Linked DNA regions of Homo sapiens. The protein of the gene in region 1 binds, or shares a complex with, the protein of each later gene. Each region holds a gene or a part of one and is shown in the gene's direction. Other genes may lie near its edges. The genes, in order: STX6 and VPS51.

Region 1 (8,349 bases):
AGTCTTCTAAATCTGATACATATTTTACACTTACTGCACATTTAAATTTGGACATTAAATTTTCATCAGAAATAATTGATCTGTATTTAAAGTTCATTAAATACATTTTTTTTTTTTGAGACAGAGTCTTGTTCTGTTGCCCAGACTGGAGTGCAGTGGTGCAATCACGGCTCACTGCAACCTCTGCCTCCCAGGTTCAAGCGATTCTTGCACCTCAGCCTCCTGAGTAGCTGGGACTATAGGTGTGTACCACCTCACCTGGCTAATTTTTGTATTTTTAGGACTATGGGCAGGGCACCCGCCACCACGCCCGGCTAATTTTTTGTATTTTTTAGTAGAGACGGGGTTTCACCATGTTAGCCAGGATGGTCTCGATCTCCTGACCTTGTGATCCACCTGTCTCGGCCTCCCAAAGTGCTGTGATTACAGGCGTGAGCCACCGCGCCCGGCCTACATACTCTTTAATTGTTCCAAACATACATAAAAGGTTTTTGATAACTGAATTGCTATCAGTTACCAAGTTTACATTAATTAAAATTTAATTTCTGTCACACTAGCCACATTTCCAGTCAGTAGTTGTATGTGGCTTCCGTGTTGGACAGCACAGTGTAAGCTTTTCTAGAGTCCTAGACAGGTGTACCCTACTTAATATTATTCAGTGGCTGCTGCTGGCCTGCAGAATAAAGTGCCAACACTTCCTGACCTCACTGATCTAGCCTCTGCTCTCCCTTAGCCTTAGTACTCCAGCAGTGCCAGACTCAATACAGTGACTGTGATTGCTGTACTGGATGCTCTTACTCTACATGCACCCACACTGCCTGATTCACCCACGCAGCTTTCTGGAGTCAGTGTAAGCATCTCCCTTGCCTCCAGGAAGTGCTTCCTTTGTCACCCCTAATTATTGGACCTCTTCCTCTGTCTCTCTTTCATTATTAGACTATGAGCTCTGAGGTTTGGGACTGTTTTTTTTTTTTTTTTCCTCTGTATTTCCAGCCTACACCTTGAATATATAGTGTAAATGTTGAACACATACTCTTTGTTGATGGTGGTGATTGTGATGGAATGGTGCCTCATGGGTGAGAACACCACCAGCCAAAGGCCTAAGTTGGGCAATGTGTGTTAGAAATGATCTGGAAGAGCAGCCCAGGTGGAGTAGACAGTTTAGGGAAGTAGTAACAGCTCACATTTAAAGGATGCATCTCCAGTGCCAGGCATACATGTAAAGTGCTAAGTAAGCACTTTATATGAATTTTCACTCTGTAAAAACACCCATATGATGAATACTAGCCACATTTTAGAGATGAGAAGCTGAGGAAGTGTTAGAGGGGTTAACTTACTTGCCTAGGGTCACACAGCTAATAAGTGGTGTACTCAGGCTTCAAATTAGAACAACCTGATTTCACACTACTGTCAATACTTCCCAGTGCAGGTAAAATAGGGTCAAGTTATGTTGGCCTAAGGAGAATCTCATCTTGAGGCCATTACAGATTTTTAAAGCAAGGAAATGACATGAAATTAGGATTTTAGGAATATTGATTTGGTGGTAGTGTTGGATGCATCAGTGTGAGGAAAGATGAAAAAGGAGACCAGTTAGAAAGCTGTTGTAACTTATACATGCAGTGGTTAGTGCTTGGAAGTTTGAAGCTCCTTTTGGGAGGTTTTGACATTGTCAATGTCCTGTTCGGAACAGAATCCCACAACAGGGATTGCTCTTTTATCCTTATGAAGTAGGTATTATTATTGTCATCATTTCACAAAAAGGAAAATGAAACTTAGTAAAAAACTTCAACTTTATAAGCTTGTACGTAGAAGGGCCAGGATTTATATATTTATTACAAATATATATTATATATATAATATGGTCATTTTAAAAATTGGGATTATACGTTATATATGGTTTTATCACTTTTTCTTTTCTTTTTTTTTTTTTTTTTTTTTTTTTTGGGACAGAGTCTTACTCTGTCGCCCAGGCTGGAGTGCAATGGCGATGGCGTGATCTCAGCTCACTGCAACCTCTACCTCTTGGGTTCAAGCGATTCTCCTGCCACACCCTCCCAAGTAGCTGGGACTACCAATGTGCGCCACTATGCCTGGCTAATTTTGTATTTTTAGTAGAGATGGCATTTCACCCTGTTAGCCAGGCTGGTCTTGAACTTTGACCTCAGGTGATCCACACACCTTGGCTTCCCAAAGTGTTGGGATTATAGGCATGAGCCACCGCGCCTGGCCTGTTTTATGACGTTTTCATCTGTATTTCTTTATATCCTTCAGACTTCTGGGTGGCAGCTTTTAATGACTGCATTGTATTTTGTCATATAAATGTTCATCCTGGAAGATACATTATATTTATGATCACACTACAATTAATGTGGTGATAAGCCTACTTGTCATAGGTCTGTATTGCTGCTTCTGATTTTCATAGCCTGTATTCCTGGAGCATAATTGCTAATTCAGAGGGCAGGCACAGCAAAGCGTTTGATGCATACTACCACGTTGTCCTCCAGAATATTCCCCCTTGCCCCTCAAAGTGTTTGAGGGACCCAATTCCCTTGATTCCAGTACTGGGATTTTCATTAAAAAAATCTTTACTAATCTCCGGGTGAAAATATCATATTTAAATCTTGTAGTCTTCATCTTTGTATTCAGTAAGGATGTACTCAGTGTTTGTTGAGTGAACCCATTTTGATTGTTTAGTTCTGTAGTTTTTTTCCTCCCTTGTTGGCAAGTTTTTAGAATTAGCCTCCTTTTAGAATTTGCACCTTCTAATCAGACAAACCCTGAAGAAAACCATGTAACTGAGCATGTGGAGACAGAGTATAAGTGAGCCACTCCTGTGGATAAAAGGTACAAATACCATGGCTCTTTGCTATTTTATTGCTGTGGAGGTTTTGTGTGTCTGATGAGGATAGTTTTTTGTTTGTTTGTTTGTTTGTTTTTTTGAGACGGAGTCTCACTCTGTTGCCCAGGCTGGAGTGCAGTGGCGCGATCTCGGCTCACTGCAAGCTCCGCCTCCCGGGTTCACGCCATTCTCCTGCCTCAGCCTCCTGAGTAGCTGGGACTACAGGTGCCCGCCACCACGCCCAGCTAATTTTTTTTTTTTTGTATTTTCAGTAGATACGGGGTTTCACTGTGTTAGCCAGGATGGTCTCGATCTCCTGACCTCGTGATCCTCCCACCTCGGCCTCCCAAAGTGCTGGGATTACAGGCATGAGCCACTGCGCCCAGCCGAGGATGGTTTTTTTGTTTGTTTGTTTGTTTTTGAGACAGAGTCTCATTCTGTCACCCAGGCTGGAGTGCAGTGGCGCGTCTTGGCTCACTGCAACCTCCGCCTCCCGGGTTCAAGCACTTCTCCCTGCCTCTGCCTCCCGAGTAGCCCGCCATCACGCCCGGATAGTTTTTGTATTTTTAGTAGAGACAGGGTTTCACTGTGTTTACCAGGCTGGTCTTGAACTCCTGACCTCAGGTGATCTGCCCGCCTCGGCCTCCCAAAGTGCTTGGATTACAGGCATGAGCCACCGCACCCAGCATGATAACAGTTTTATTTCCAGGTTTTTGGCTGTGGATTGATGTTGAAATAATGACATAAGTAAGCTGATGAGTAAGATGGTATATGTTATGTTGTGTTCTTTAACCTTCTCTGTCTGCATATCTAGCTTTATTAACACTAGATTATGAGCTCCTCGAGGGCATCACGCATTCTATTCACTGTTGAAAAACTGTATTGGTATAGTCACTGTGAAAAAAATAACCCTTGTTTGTTAATTTTGGCCTAGTAAAATTGAATGTAAATCAAATTTAATACTTTCTAAAAAGCAGAATCCAGTGTTTCGTTGTAAGAACAAATTTGCAAGCCTTTATTATAAATTTGAGTGTTTAATATTATTTAGCTCCTTAGTTTGGAGAACACTATGCAGATAAGTGAAAGATATATTGTGTAAGATTTTGCAGTAGAGTTGAGATGCTGTGGAGATTGAAAAAAAAAGAAAGACCCATGCTGGGAATGCTGGTCAATCTGGGCCTTAAAGGAAGTGTCTGCTGAGGTGTAAGGCTCTTCTAGGCTGGGGAAACAACTGAGTGGAAGTCAAGAACCAGGAATGAGAAAGATAAAGATGGGAAGAAGACCTGCCAACTGAAACAGAATTTGTTCAGTGAGAAACCATGCTTGATACTAAAGTCAGCCAGTTTGGGTTAGGAGGAGGAGTGGGAGAGGGTTTGAATACCTGCCTGAGGAGTTTAAATTTAATCTGATTTCTATCATAAATTCTAAATCAGGAGGCAGTTTTTAAACTAGCAGTTACTATTCACTTGCTTATAGTCAGCTTTTAAGGGTTCAAACCCAGATCTTCTGATTCTACAAAGAAAACAGATTTGTGGGCCAGGTGCGATGGCTCATGCCTGTAATCCCAGCACTTTGGGAGGCCAAGGCAGGCGAATCATGAGGTCAGGAATTCGAGACCAGCCTGGCCAACATGGTGAAACCCCATCTCTACCAAAGATACAAAAAATTAGCTGGGTGTGGTGGTGGGCACCTGTAGTCCCAGCTACTTGGGAGGCTGAGGCAGGAGAATTGCTTGAACCCTCTTTTGCAGTGAGCTGAGATCACGCCACTGCACTCCAGCCCTGGTGACAGTGCAAAACTCCCTCTCAAAAAAAAAAAAAAAGATTTGTGTGGAAGTTTTGGAAAAATGCAATTAAATAAGTCTTGGTAATAGAAAGTGTCTTATAATCAGGGTTGGAAGAACTTGAGGCAAGCAGCCAATATGTCTGAGCCCCAAGGTCTCTTATTTATGTTTAAGGAGCACAAACTAGATTATCTTGAAAGTTCTTTCCAGATCTGAAAATTCAGTGATTGGATTTAAGTAGAGGTTGTGCAAGGTAAGGAGGAGGAGGAGTCAAAAATGACTCTTGTCTAGACAAGTGTTGAAACTTGGAAAATGGTGGCACTATTGGCTAAAATGAGGAAGCTAGAAAGGGAAGCAGATTTTTCTATTTTGTTTGTTTTGAATACATTATGTTTTGTAGGGAGGATATGATTAATTTGGTTTTAGGCAAATGGAATGATCCTATAGGCAGCTAAAAATATAGGAATTAAGCCTGGCTGAGTGGTTAGGGTTGGAAGTATAGTGGGGGAGTCATCAGCTTAAGAGGGGTGCTTTGAACTTGTGAATGCTGATGAGCACATAGAGGCCACAAAGAGTACTGAGAAACATTGGGATCCAGTGGAGGAAGAGGAAGGAGAAAACTGGTAGAAAACTAGAACAGCACAATGTCACAGAGACAGAGAAAGTGAGAGTTTCAAGCAAATAGATATAATGGGCCATAGTGTCAAGTGCACCAAAAATGAGGACAAGTTAAATTCACTCGTGACTTTGACCTGCAGTGTCATTGGTGGAGTTGTGGAAGCAGCAGTAAGTTAGGGTCAAAAATTGTATATAATTGTAGGTAACTGAGTAAAAATGATGTTTCATTTTCACAAGAGTAATTACAAAATATGTCACAGTGTGGTTGAATTTGGAAATGGCAATAAAGTCAAGTAAAGGGTGTGCATGTGTTTCCTTTCAAATACAAACGATGTGAATGTAGAAGTCAAGCAATAAAAAGAGTTCCTCTCTTTCTGGAGAGATGAGTGGTGAAACCAGGTTTGTGGGGTATGGGGCAGGAACCAGTTGGAGAAGAGTGAGGAGTGGGAGTCTGATGTGTTGCAGAGGCTCACTCAACCTGAATTTTTCATGTTTCATTACTAGAATGGAAACTTTCAGCCTTGACTAGCCTCTTTTACTGTATTGATGAAATGGGGATCCCTCTGTAAAGACTTGCAGAGTAGGTGCTGTCCCAGATAAAAGAGTTGTGGCAGATTGTATTTTTTCCATTGATGGCTGCACCAATAAATGTTCTGTCCTGTGTTGCTTTTCTTTCTTTTTTTTTCTTTTTTTTTTTTGAGATGGAGTCTTGCTCTGTCTCCCAAGCTGGAGTGCAGTGGTGCAATCTCGGCTTACTGCAACCTTCGCCTCCTGGGTTCAAGCGATTCTTCTGCCTCAGCCTTCTGAGTAGCTGGGTTTACAGGTGCATGCCACCACACCCGGCTAATTTTTGTATTTTTAGTAGAGACGGTTTGACTGTATTGGCCAGGCTGGTCTCGAACTCCTGACCTGGTGATCCACCCACCTCGGCTTCCCAAAGTGCTGGGATTACAGGCGTGAGCCACCACGCCCGGCTGTTTGTTTTTATTAAATTGTGAAGCTGGCATTCTTTTATCAAACTGGAGTTTGTATTCCCTTCCTTTGAACCTGGGCAGACCTTTATAAACTGCTTTGACTAGCAGATTGAAGCAGAAGTGACGCTGCTTGACTCCTGAAGCTTAAGTCATAAAAGACAACCACTATACCTTCCATCTGCATCTTTCATCTTGGAACACAAGTATAGGCTACCCTGAGCTAACATGTAACAAGTCCAGTTACATTGAAGCCACTCTGTTAGAGCATGTGTGCAGACTGTGGAGAGATAGAGAGATGTGATGCCTTTACAGCCCCAGCCTGTTTAATATTTTCAGCTGAGGTCCCAGACATTGTGGAACAGGGACAAGTCAGCTCTGCTGTGTCTGATTCCTGATCTACAGACTCCATGACATGATAAATGGTTGTTTTACACCACTAAATTTTGGGGTCATTGTTAAACAACCACGATAACTAGAACATGCCAATTCAGAGTCTGCCAGCATGGGCAAAGAAGAAAGGATAAATCAAAACGATGAAGGGGGAGGCCAAGGCAGGAGGATCACTTGAGGCCAGGAGTTTGAGATCAGCCTGGGCAACAGCGAGACCCTGTTTCTACAATAAATAAAAAAAATTAGCTTGGCGTGGTAGTGTGCACCTGTAGTCCTAGCAACTTGGGAGGCTGAGACGGAAGAATCCTTTGAACCCAGGAATTCGAGATTACAGTGAGCTGTGATTGCACCACTGCACTCCAGCCTGGTTGACAGTGAGACCCTGTCTCAACCACAACAGGAAAAAGGATGATGGGGGTTGTGGCTACACTTACGCAATTTGTTGGTACAACTGAATGACAAATACTGGGGAACAAAGCTCCCTAATGGCTGAGATACTCTTTCTTCTCATTTTACTTGGCAAACTTGGTTAGATGCAAGTAAGAAAACTTTGTGATTTTTTTTTTTTTTGGACTGTATTTGGACTGAATGTATTACTTGTGGCCCCAGAGGCTAGTTTGGTGATGTACCATATTGGGAGGTTGTATGGAAGAGGCTCAACTATCTGACGAGGGATCAATGTTGGGCTAACTTCAAAAATAAATGAGGTTGGTTTGCCAGAATCAACTTTTTATTTATGAAGAATGGAAGAATTGGCTGGGCGCGGTGGCTCATGCCTGTAATACCAATACTTTGGGAGGTCAATGTGGGTGGATCACCTGAAGTCAGGAGTTTGAGACCAGCCTGACCAACATGGAGAAACCCCGTCTCTACTAAAAATACAAAATTAGCCGGGCGTGGTGGTGCATGCCTGTAATCCCAGCTACTCAGGAGGCTGAAGCGGGGTAATTGCTTGAACCTGGGAGGCGGAGGTTGTGGTGAGCTGAGATTGTGCCATTGTACTCCAGCCAGGGCAACAAGAGTGAAATTCCATCTCAAAAAAAAAAAAAAAAAAAGAATGGAAGAATCTGAATGCTCAGATGACTTTATTTTGTTTTTCCCAAAAGATGCATTCTTCAAAGATGTGGGCAGTGTTTCCATTTTTGACAGCTACTTACTGGGAAAGTTCTGCATTGCAAGTGGTCCTGTGGGCATTGTGGTGACTTGCCATGAAGAGCCTTCATTCTGGTGTCTGTAGGGAGTTTAATCCTTGAGAAGATGACAGGTTCCATGATTTTGATGGGCTGTTTTGTAGACAGCAGGGAGGAAAAGCCACATCCCTAGAATTGCCAACACTGGCTCTTGGTATCTACGAAATGCTACCTGTATCAGATGAAACTGATTTGGGCAGCATGTGTGACGGATAGCGCAAGATTTGCTTGATGTGTGGAGATAGCCGTCTTTCTCTTTCAAGGATTTGAAAAAGGCTTCTCTGGGTCAGCAGCTAAAACTATAATTCCTAGGAAAGTCATCAGCAAGTTTTCAGTGAAATGCTGCCAGATGTGATTCTCCAAGCTGTGGGTGAGCAGATTGTTATTTACCAAGAAGTTTGCTAAGCTGAAGAACTCTGACAATTCAAGGTATACCTGCTTCAAGGTATATACTGCTTCATGGTATATACTCTCTCATGGAAAGTTCTGGGTATCAAACTTTAATTTTTCTGATTACATAGTTGAGGAAAAAAATAGCTAAATCAGACATAAAGA
Region 2 (8,349 bases), on another chromosome or scaffold:
TGATTTGAAGCAGATTCCATGAGTAGGCACCTTTCTGTTAGCTAATACCAGCATCAAAATGGCAAGAAATCATAGTTTCTGTGCTGGGATATTTCTCACAGGAATTTAATAAGATTACATTTTCCATTTGTTGGAATGTGTATAATAATATTTTGAGACTTAGCTCTTTTTGTACATCCCACAAAAGGAACAAACGTTTGGAAAAGTGTGAGGATAACCAGGAGCATTGATGTCTTAGAAGCTTAAGTGAGGGGCCGGGCATGGGGTTCTCACCCGTGATCCCAGCACTTTGGGAGGCTGAGGTGGGTGGATCACTTGAGGCTAGGAGTTCAAGACCAGCCTGGCCAACATGGTGAAACCCTGTCTCTACTAAAAATACAAAAATTAGCTGGGCAAGGTGGTGCATGCCTGTAGTCCAAGCTACTCATGAGGCTGAGGCAGGAGAATTGCTTGAACCCAGGAGGTGGAGGTTGCGTGAGGAAGGTGTTTCAAGACATAGATTTGATAGACTTGGGCGAGACACTCAGGAAAGTAATGTAGCATGGAGTGTGTGTTGATTGGGCAAGAGAGAGAGAAAAATGAGAAAGGAACTAGGTCCTCAGGAAGGAGGGGGGTGGAACAGAGCAGGGATGGAGGCATCGGCCTCAGCAAAGGGCCGGGAGCTCATCTATGGTAGCAGGAGGGGAAGCAGAATGTGGGCAGAGCCAGGCAGATAGTAGATGTGCAGTTTAACTAGAAACCTTCCAGAATGTATTAGGGATTTGGCTTTTATCCACAGAGAGCTAAAACAAATGAGTGATGTGCTCAGATTTCTGGTTTGAATAGATTCCTCCAGCTGCACTGGCAGGAATGGATGGGGCTGAGCACAGTGGCTCATGCCTGTAATCCCTGCACTTTGGAAGGCTGAGGTGGGAGGATCACTTGAGCCCAGGAGTTTGAGACCAGCCTGTGCAACATAGTGAGACCCGATATCTAGAAAAAAAAAAATAGCTGGGTATGGTGGCACACACTTGTTAGAATAAACCCAGCTACTTGGGGAGGCTAAGGTGGGTGGATCACATGAGCCCAGGAGCTGGAGATTGCAGTGAGCTATAATCTCACCATTGCACTCTAGCCTGGGTGACAGAGCAAGACCTAGTCTCAAAAAATAAATAAATAAATAAAAAGGCCAGGTGCGGTGGCTTATGCCTATAATCTTAGCACTCTGAGAGGCCGAGACGGGTGGATCATCTGAGGTCAGGCATTTGAGACCAGGCTGGCCAATATGGTGAAACCCCATCTCTACTAAAAATACAAAAATTAGTCAGGCATGGTGGCAGGCATCTGTAGTCCCAGCTACTCAGGAGGCTGAGGCAGGAGAATCGCTTGAACCCAGGAGGCGGAGGTTGCAGTGAGTCGAGATCGCGCCACTGCACTCCAGCCTGGGCAACAGAGCGAGACTCCGTCTCAAAAATAATAATAATAATAAATAATAATAAAAGGACAGCCCACAGAATGGGAGAAAATATTTGCAAGTTAGTTATCTAATAAAAATCTAGTGTTCAGAACATAAAAAGAACGTTTTTTAGCTCAGGGCTAAAAAGACAAATAACCCTAATTTAAAATGGGCAAAGGATTTGAATAGACACTTCTCCAGAGAAAACATACAAGTGGCCGAAAAGCACATATAAATATGCTCAGCATCATTAGGTCTTAGGGAAATGCAAATCCAAACCACAAAATGCTGCACCCAGTGTGGAAGACAGTTTGACCATTCTTCAAAACCACACACAAGATTACCATATGATCGGCAATTTTACTCCTAGGAATATACCAAAGAGAATTGAAAACATGTTCACATAAAAACATGTACACAAGTGTTCATAGCAGTGTTTTTTTTTTTTTTTTTTTTTTTGAGATGGAGTCTAGCTCTGTCACCCAGGCTAGAGTGCAGTGGTGCCATCTTGGCTCACTGTAACCTCCGCCTCCCCAGTTCAAGCGATTCTCCTGCCTCAGCCTCCTGAGTAGCTGGGATTATAGGTGTGCACCATCACACCCGCCTAATTTTTTTATTTTTATTTTTTGTATATTTACTAGAGACGGGATTCCACCTTGTTGGCCAGGCTGGTCTTGAACTCCTGACCTCAAGTGATCCGCTTGCCTCGGCTTCCCAAAGTACTGGGATTACAGGCAAGAGCCACCATGCCTGGCCAATAGCAGCACTTTTTATAATAGCCACAAGGTGGAAGCAATCCAAATGGCCATCAATTGAATGAATATAAACAAATATCCACACAGTGGAATATTATTCAGCCATAAAAATAGATATAACATACTGACACAGGCTACAACATAGATTAACCTTGGAAACATGCTAATGTTTCATATGCCTATGATTCCATTTCTGTTAAATGTATTCTGTAGCGAATAGACAAATCCATAGAGACAGAAACTAGATTAATGGTTGCCAAGTTCTAGGAGTGGGGGAATAAGGAATGACTGCCAAGGGTTACAGGGTTTCTTTAGGGGATGATGAAATGTTCTGGAATTACGTAGTGAGGTTGGTTGTACAACCTTGTGAATATATTAAACATATTAAAAACCACTGAATTGGTATGTCAATTATATCCCAATTAAAAAGAAAACCAGGCATTGAGCCAGATTTGGCCTGCAGGCTGTAGTTTGCCAACCTCTCACCTAGACATTGAGTTTCATTATGTAATAATGCATTTACTTGTGTCAAAATTAGAAAGATCTCAAACATTATACAGGGAAAAGCCTCTCCTAATTCTTTTCTCTAGGCAAAGACAAAGCAGTCTTTGACAGTACATTTCACTGAAAATTAACAGAGCCCAGGTGGGATTATGGCTCATACCTATAATCCCAACACTTTGTGAGGCAGAGGCAGGCAGATTGCTTGAGCTCAGGAGTTCGAGACCATCCTGGCCAACAGGTTATACCTGTCTCTACAAAAAATACAAAAATTAGCTGGGTGTGGTGTTGTGTCCCTGTAGTCCGAGCTGCTCAGGAAGCTGAGGTGGAAGGCTTGTACCTGGGAGGCAGAGGTTGCAGTAAGCCAAGATTGTGTCACTGCACTCCAGCCTGGGTGACAGAGCCAGACCTTGTCTCAAAAAAAAAAAAAAAAAAAAAAAAAAAAAGAAAATTAACAGACATACAGAAAAGTGCACATAAGTGGACAGCTCCATGGATTTCACAAAGGGAGCACAGTCACATAATCAGCATCCAGGTCGGGAAACAGCATAACCAGCAAAGCCCCCTGAGCCTCCTACCAGTTACCACCCAGTCCCCTCCCAAGGTAGCCAACATCCTCGCATCCAGATGGCTTTCACTCTCCCTGGTTACAAACTGCTTTTCTTAACAAGCTTTTTTTTTTTTTTTTTTTTGAGACAGAGTCTTGCTCTGTCATCCAGGCTAGAGTGCAGTGGCCCAATCGGCTCACTGCAACCTCCGCCTCCGGGGTTCAAGTGATTCTCCTGTCTTAGGCTTCCAAGTACCTGGGATTACAGGCACCTGCCACCACACTTGGCTAATTATTGTATTTTCAGTAGAGACGGGATTTCACCATGTTGGTCAGGCAGGTGACCTCAGGTGATCCACCTGCCTTGGCCTCCCAAAGTGCTGGGGTTACAGGCGTGAGCCACTGTGCCCAGCCTGCTTTTCTTAACAAGCTTGAAATGCAAAGATAAACAGTGTAGTCTTTGTGACTGAATGGTGTGGATGCTTTCACTGTTGTTTTTGGATATGGTACAACTTTTATCTCCAGTGTAATGGCTCCATGGCTGGGAAGGCAGCGACAATGACAGCACACAGCACTGTTGGGTTTTCTTTTACTCTATTTTCCTAACAACTTAGTGTTTGGATTTTACCCTTTAGAAGTTGGATTCAAGCTTCCTTCTTGAGGTAGCCCCTAAGTGTCATGGGCTCAAACACCCACTACCAAAAGAGTCTGCTCTTTTCATGGTAGCTTTTGGCAGACCTGGAAGGAGATTGTGTCACATGGCCTGTAAACAAAACCAGTAATTCACTGGGTGAAGACCAAATGCCTCATCAACTGCCAAGCCTCTGTCTGTCTCCCTTAGATCAGTAGCCCATGATCCCTTTACGAACCTCAGCCTCGGCTCTGCTTTTATTGTTTTTCACTGCATAGCGCTGCCTTTGCTATGTCCTTTAGTTCACCATCTATGAATTGGCAAGAAAAATTTTCTTGCCAGGCACAGTGGCTCACTCCTGTGCTCCCAGCACTTTGGGAGGCTGAAGTGGGAGCATTGCTTGAGCCCAGAAGTTTGAGACCAGCCTGGGCAACATAGAGAGACCCCATCTCTACACAAAATTTAAACAAAAATTAAAAAATTAGCCGGGTGTGATGGCGCTTGTGTGTAGTCCCAGCTACTTCAGAAGCTAAGGTAGGAGGATCACTTGAGCCCCAGAGTTCAAGGCTGCAGTAAGCTGTGTTTGCACCACTGCATGCCATCTTGGCTCACTGTAACCTCCGCCTCCCCAGTTAAGGTGATTCTCCTGCCTTAGCCTCCTGAGTAGCTGGGATTATAAGTGTGCATCACCATGCCTGTAGACAGAGCAAGACCCTATCTCAAGCAAAGAAACTCAAAATAATTATGATTTCCCCAACAAAATGCAGGCAATGGTCCCTATGGTCCCAAAAGTAATATAGATGTTTCACATCATGTGATTTTATTCCTTAGTAACCTTCCTTTCTATGAAATCATCTCTAAGAGGGCTAAATGATCCTTTCTTGTGGACTGTGTTGTTAAAATGAAAAGTCCATTTTGCTGATACGTAATCTACCTTTCCATGTAATTTTTTAAAAAATCCCTTAATAGCTCTACAGATGTGAGCCCTGTAGATTCTTTGTCTCAGACAGTTCTTTCTCTTATATTTTCTCTAATATTTTTTTCCTGCATTTTTTGTTTCTGTTTGTTTCTTGTCAAATTGACATCAATGCTTTTCTCCTTACTCACCCTTCCAGCTGTCTCCCCAAGTGGGGTAGATTCCCAGTGTTGCTTGGAGAACATTCCTACAGTCCCAGAGCCACACACAGACCAGGTGTGGGTGTGTGAAGGCTCACAAGTGATTGCAGTTAGATATTTCCAGATTCTTCTTTGTAAATGCTGATCAGTTTGCATAACCACCAGCAAAGAAGAGAATACCTCTTTCAATCTTTGACAATCTGAGAAGTGAAAAGTGGTATCTCTTATTGTTTATAGTAACGTTTACAGGGTGTTTTTTTTTGTTTTTTTTTTTTAGGGCTTTCTATTTATTCAATTATTATTATTTGAGACAGAGTGTTGCTCTATTACTCAGGTTAGAGTGCAGTGGCACAATCTCAGCTCACTACAACTTGTGCCTCCAGGGTTCAAGCGATTCTCCTGCCTCAGCCTTCCCAGTAGCTAGGATTACAGGCACCTGCCACCACGCCCAACTACTTTTTGTATTTTTACTAGAGACAGGGTTTTACCATGTTGGCCAGGCTGGTCTCAAACTCCTGACGTCAAGTGATCTGCCTGCCTCGGCCTCCCAAAGTGCTGGGATTACAGGCATGAGCTACCGTGGCTGGCCTATTTATTTGATTATATCATCTGCAAATAGTGATACTTCTCCCTCCTTTCCAATTTGTGTATCTCCATAATACATCTCGTGACTCTAGCTGAGTTGGCTAATGCCCCAGAACAATGTAGATAACATTGGCAATCAAGGTTGTCCTTGCCATGTTTTGACTTTAATTGGAGTGCTTCTAGCACTGCCTCGGTAAACATGATACTGAGTTTTGGAGGTCAGGGAAATATTTAGCTGCTCATATGTTATTGAGAGTTTTTTAAAAATCAAGAATAGATGTTGAAATATCTATTAACATGGCAAATTATTATGAGATCCTCTAATTTTGAGTCATCCTGGCATTCATGAAACAAAAACCCTTTTGTGTTTATCAATTATTATTTTAATATGCTGCTGGATTTTGTTTGCTTATTTGTGCATCTCCATTTGTTTATTTAATTCATCCTTGCATCTCCATTCATAAGAGATATGAATGTGTATATGTGAGGTATTTCTGTTATGTTTTCATAACAGTGTTATGTTTGTTCCATCAAGTTTGTGTGAGAGCTGTTCTCGTTTCTCTGCTGGGGCAGTGTTTACACAGAGAATTGGAAGGCGCTGTCCTTCAAGCCGCCGCAACACCCCTGGACATCTGGGCCAGATGCCTTTGTGTGGAGGGGAAAGGGGAGTAGGACCTTTCTTTCACAACATTCTCTAGTTTTTCTGTTTCTGTTTTCTTGTTTTTTGCAATCCATTTTGGTAAATCCTATTTTTGTAGCAAATTATCCATTTCATCCATAGAATTCACCAAGCCCTTACCAATTTAGTGTTTTCTTGGTATTTTACCCATGCTGCAATTTCAGTTTTGATTTCCTTTTCTGACCTCATAATTGGTTAACAATGAGGTTTTTTCGACTGGGCACGGTGGCTCCCGCCTGTAATCCCAGCACTTTGGGAGGCCGAGGCGGGTGGATCACTTGAGGTCAGAGACCAGTCTGGCCAACATGGTGAAACCCTCTCTACTAAAAGTACAAAAATTAGCCAGGCATGGTGGCACGTGCCTGTAATCCCAGCTACTCGGGGCTGAGGCAGGAGAATCGCTTGAACCCAGGAGGTGGAGGTTGCAGTGAGCTGAGATCGCGCCACTGCACTGCAGCCTGGGCGACGGAGGGAGACCCTGTCTCAAAAAAAAAAAAAGAATGAGGTTTTTTTCTTTGTGATCTACCATATGGAAAGGTTTGTATATATTTTATGGCATTGTTTGGGAAAAATGCAAACTGTGTGCTTCCTATGCTCTCACATCACCACAATCATGACCACAGAAGAGTTCTGTGACCAAATGTGTTGGGTTTCTTCCCCACACACCAAGCAGCAGACACCCGCTGGGTGTCCTCTGATTTAATTCCAACACTATTTACCCAGAGATAGCATCAGATTCCATGAGTTGAGGGCTGAGTCCCCAAGCCTGCCTCCCTTCAGGCACTAGTTCAGTCCCAAATCTGCCTCCCCACTTTCAGGCACTAGCTGCAGGTCAGGGCCTCAGGCCTCCAGAATTTCTGACCAACTGGCTCCAGGTAGGGGTTTCCATAACTCCCTCTTTGGGCTCAGTTTGCTGGAGTGGCTCACAGAGCTCAGGATAACACATTTACCAGTTTATTACAAAGGATGTTACAAAGGGTACAGATGAGCAGGTGCATAGGGCGAGGTGTAGGAGAAGGAGCATGGAGTTTCCATGCCCTCCCCGGGCGTGCCACCCTCCAGGAGCCTCCAGAGCTGAGATCGCGCCACTGCACTCCAGCCTGGGTGACAGAGTGAGACTCTTTCTCAAACAAAACAAAACCAAAATATCTCCTGTTACAGATACACATTTCTGTCTTATCCTCTTCGCCTTTCTTTATGAACATTGTTGGTATGTTCAATGGAATTAGGGAAATTAGTTGGGAAATGTTGGCAGTTGTTGGACAAGAGATGATAGTGGCTTACAAAGAAAATGTTGCAGGTAGACCTTCCATGACTTGGTAATGGATTGATTACTAGGTATATTAATCCAGGTTCATACTGCTGTAAAGAACTGCCCGAGACTAGGTAACTTATAAAGGAAAGAGGTTTAATTGACTCACAGTTCACAGCATGGCTGGGGAGGCCTCAGGAAACTTACAATCATGGCAGAAGGTGAAAGAGAAGCAAGGCATCTTCTTCACAAGGCAGCAGGAAGGAGAAGTGTTAAGCGAAGCAGGGAGAGCCCCTTATAAAACCATCAGACCTCGTCGGGTGCGGTGGCTCATGCCTGTAATCCCAGCACTTTGGGAGGCCAAGGTGGGCGGATCATGAGGTCAGGAGATCAAGACCATCCTGGCTAACATGGTGAAACTCCATCTCTACTAAAAATACAAAAAATTAGCTGGGTGTGGTGGCAGGCACCTGTAGTCCCAGCTACTTGGGAGGCTGAGGCAGGAGAATGGTGTGAACCTGGGAATTGGAGTTTGCAGTGAGCAGAGGTCGTGCCACTGCACTCCAGTCTGGGCGACAGAGCGAGACTCAGTCTCAAAAAAAAAAAAAAAGAATAGGTGGAATTGAATTGAGGCCGTCAGTGAACAGTCAGGAACATTGGAAGGCTCATCCATGTGGATGTGCACAAGGAGGTGACAGGAGGAGGAGAAGAGGCAGTGATGGGGAACTGAGAGGAGTGTCAGAGGACAGTAGAGACAGCAAAGAGGAGGGTTGTGGCTTGATGGCATGGTCTTCCTAGAAGCCGGGGTTTTGAAGAGAGGAGATCTAGGCATGATTTAGAAGCATGAA

What was found.
Region 2: the proteins of STX6 (region 1) and VPS51 are in contact, whole or in part, in a crystal structure (PDB 4J2C), measured with the Homo sapiens proteins. Residues at the interface, in NP_005810.1 of Homo sapiens: Met3, Glu4, Asp5, Pro6, Phe7, Val9, Val10, Glu13, Trp59, Asp60, Asp63, Leu64, Glu66, Thr67, Ile70, Val71, Phe78, Arg88; in NP_037397.2 of Homo sapiens: Ala33, His34, Met36, Leu37, Leu39, Tyr40, Tyr41, Gly42, Leu43.

Annotation. Positions count from the first base shown.
Region 1 is NC_000001.11:181,011,983-181,020,331, reverse strand, and holds part of STX6 (syntaxin-6), read left to right. Parts: intron 1-8,349. UniProt on the Homo sapiens protein: SNARE promoting movement of transport vesicles to target membranes. Targets endosomes to the trans-Golgi network, and may therefore function in retrograde trafficking.
Region 2 is NC_000011.10:65,098,655-65,107,003, forward strand, and holds part of VPS51 (vacuolar protein sorting-associated protein 51 homolog), read left to right. Parts: intron 1-8,349. UniProt on the Homo sapiens protein: Acts as a component of the GARP complex that is involved in retrograde transport from early and late endosomes to the trans-Golgi network (TGN).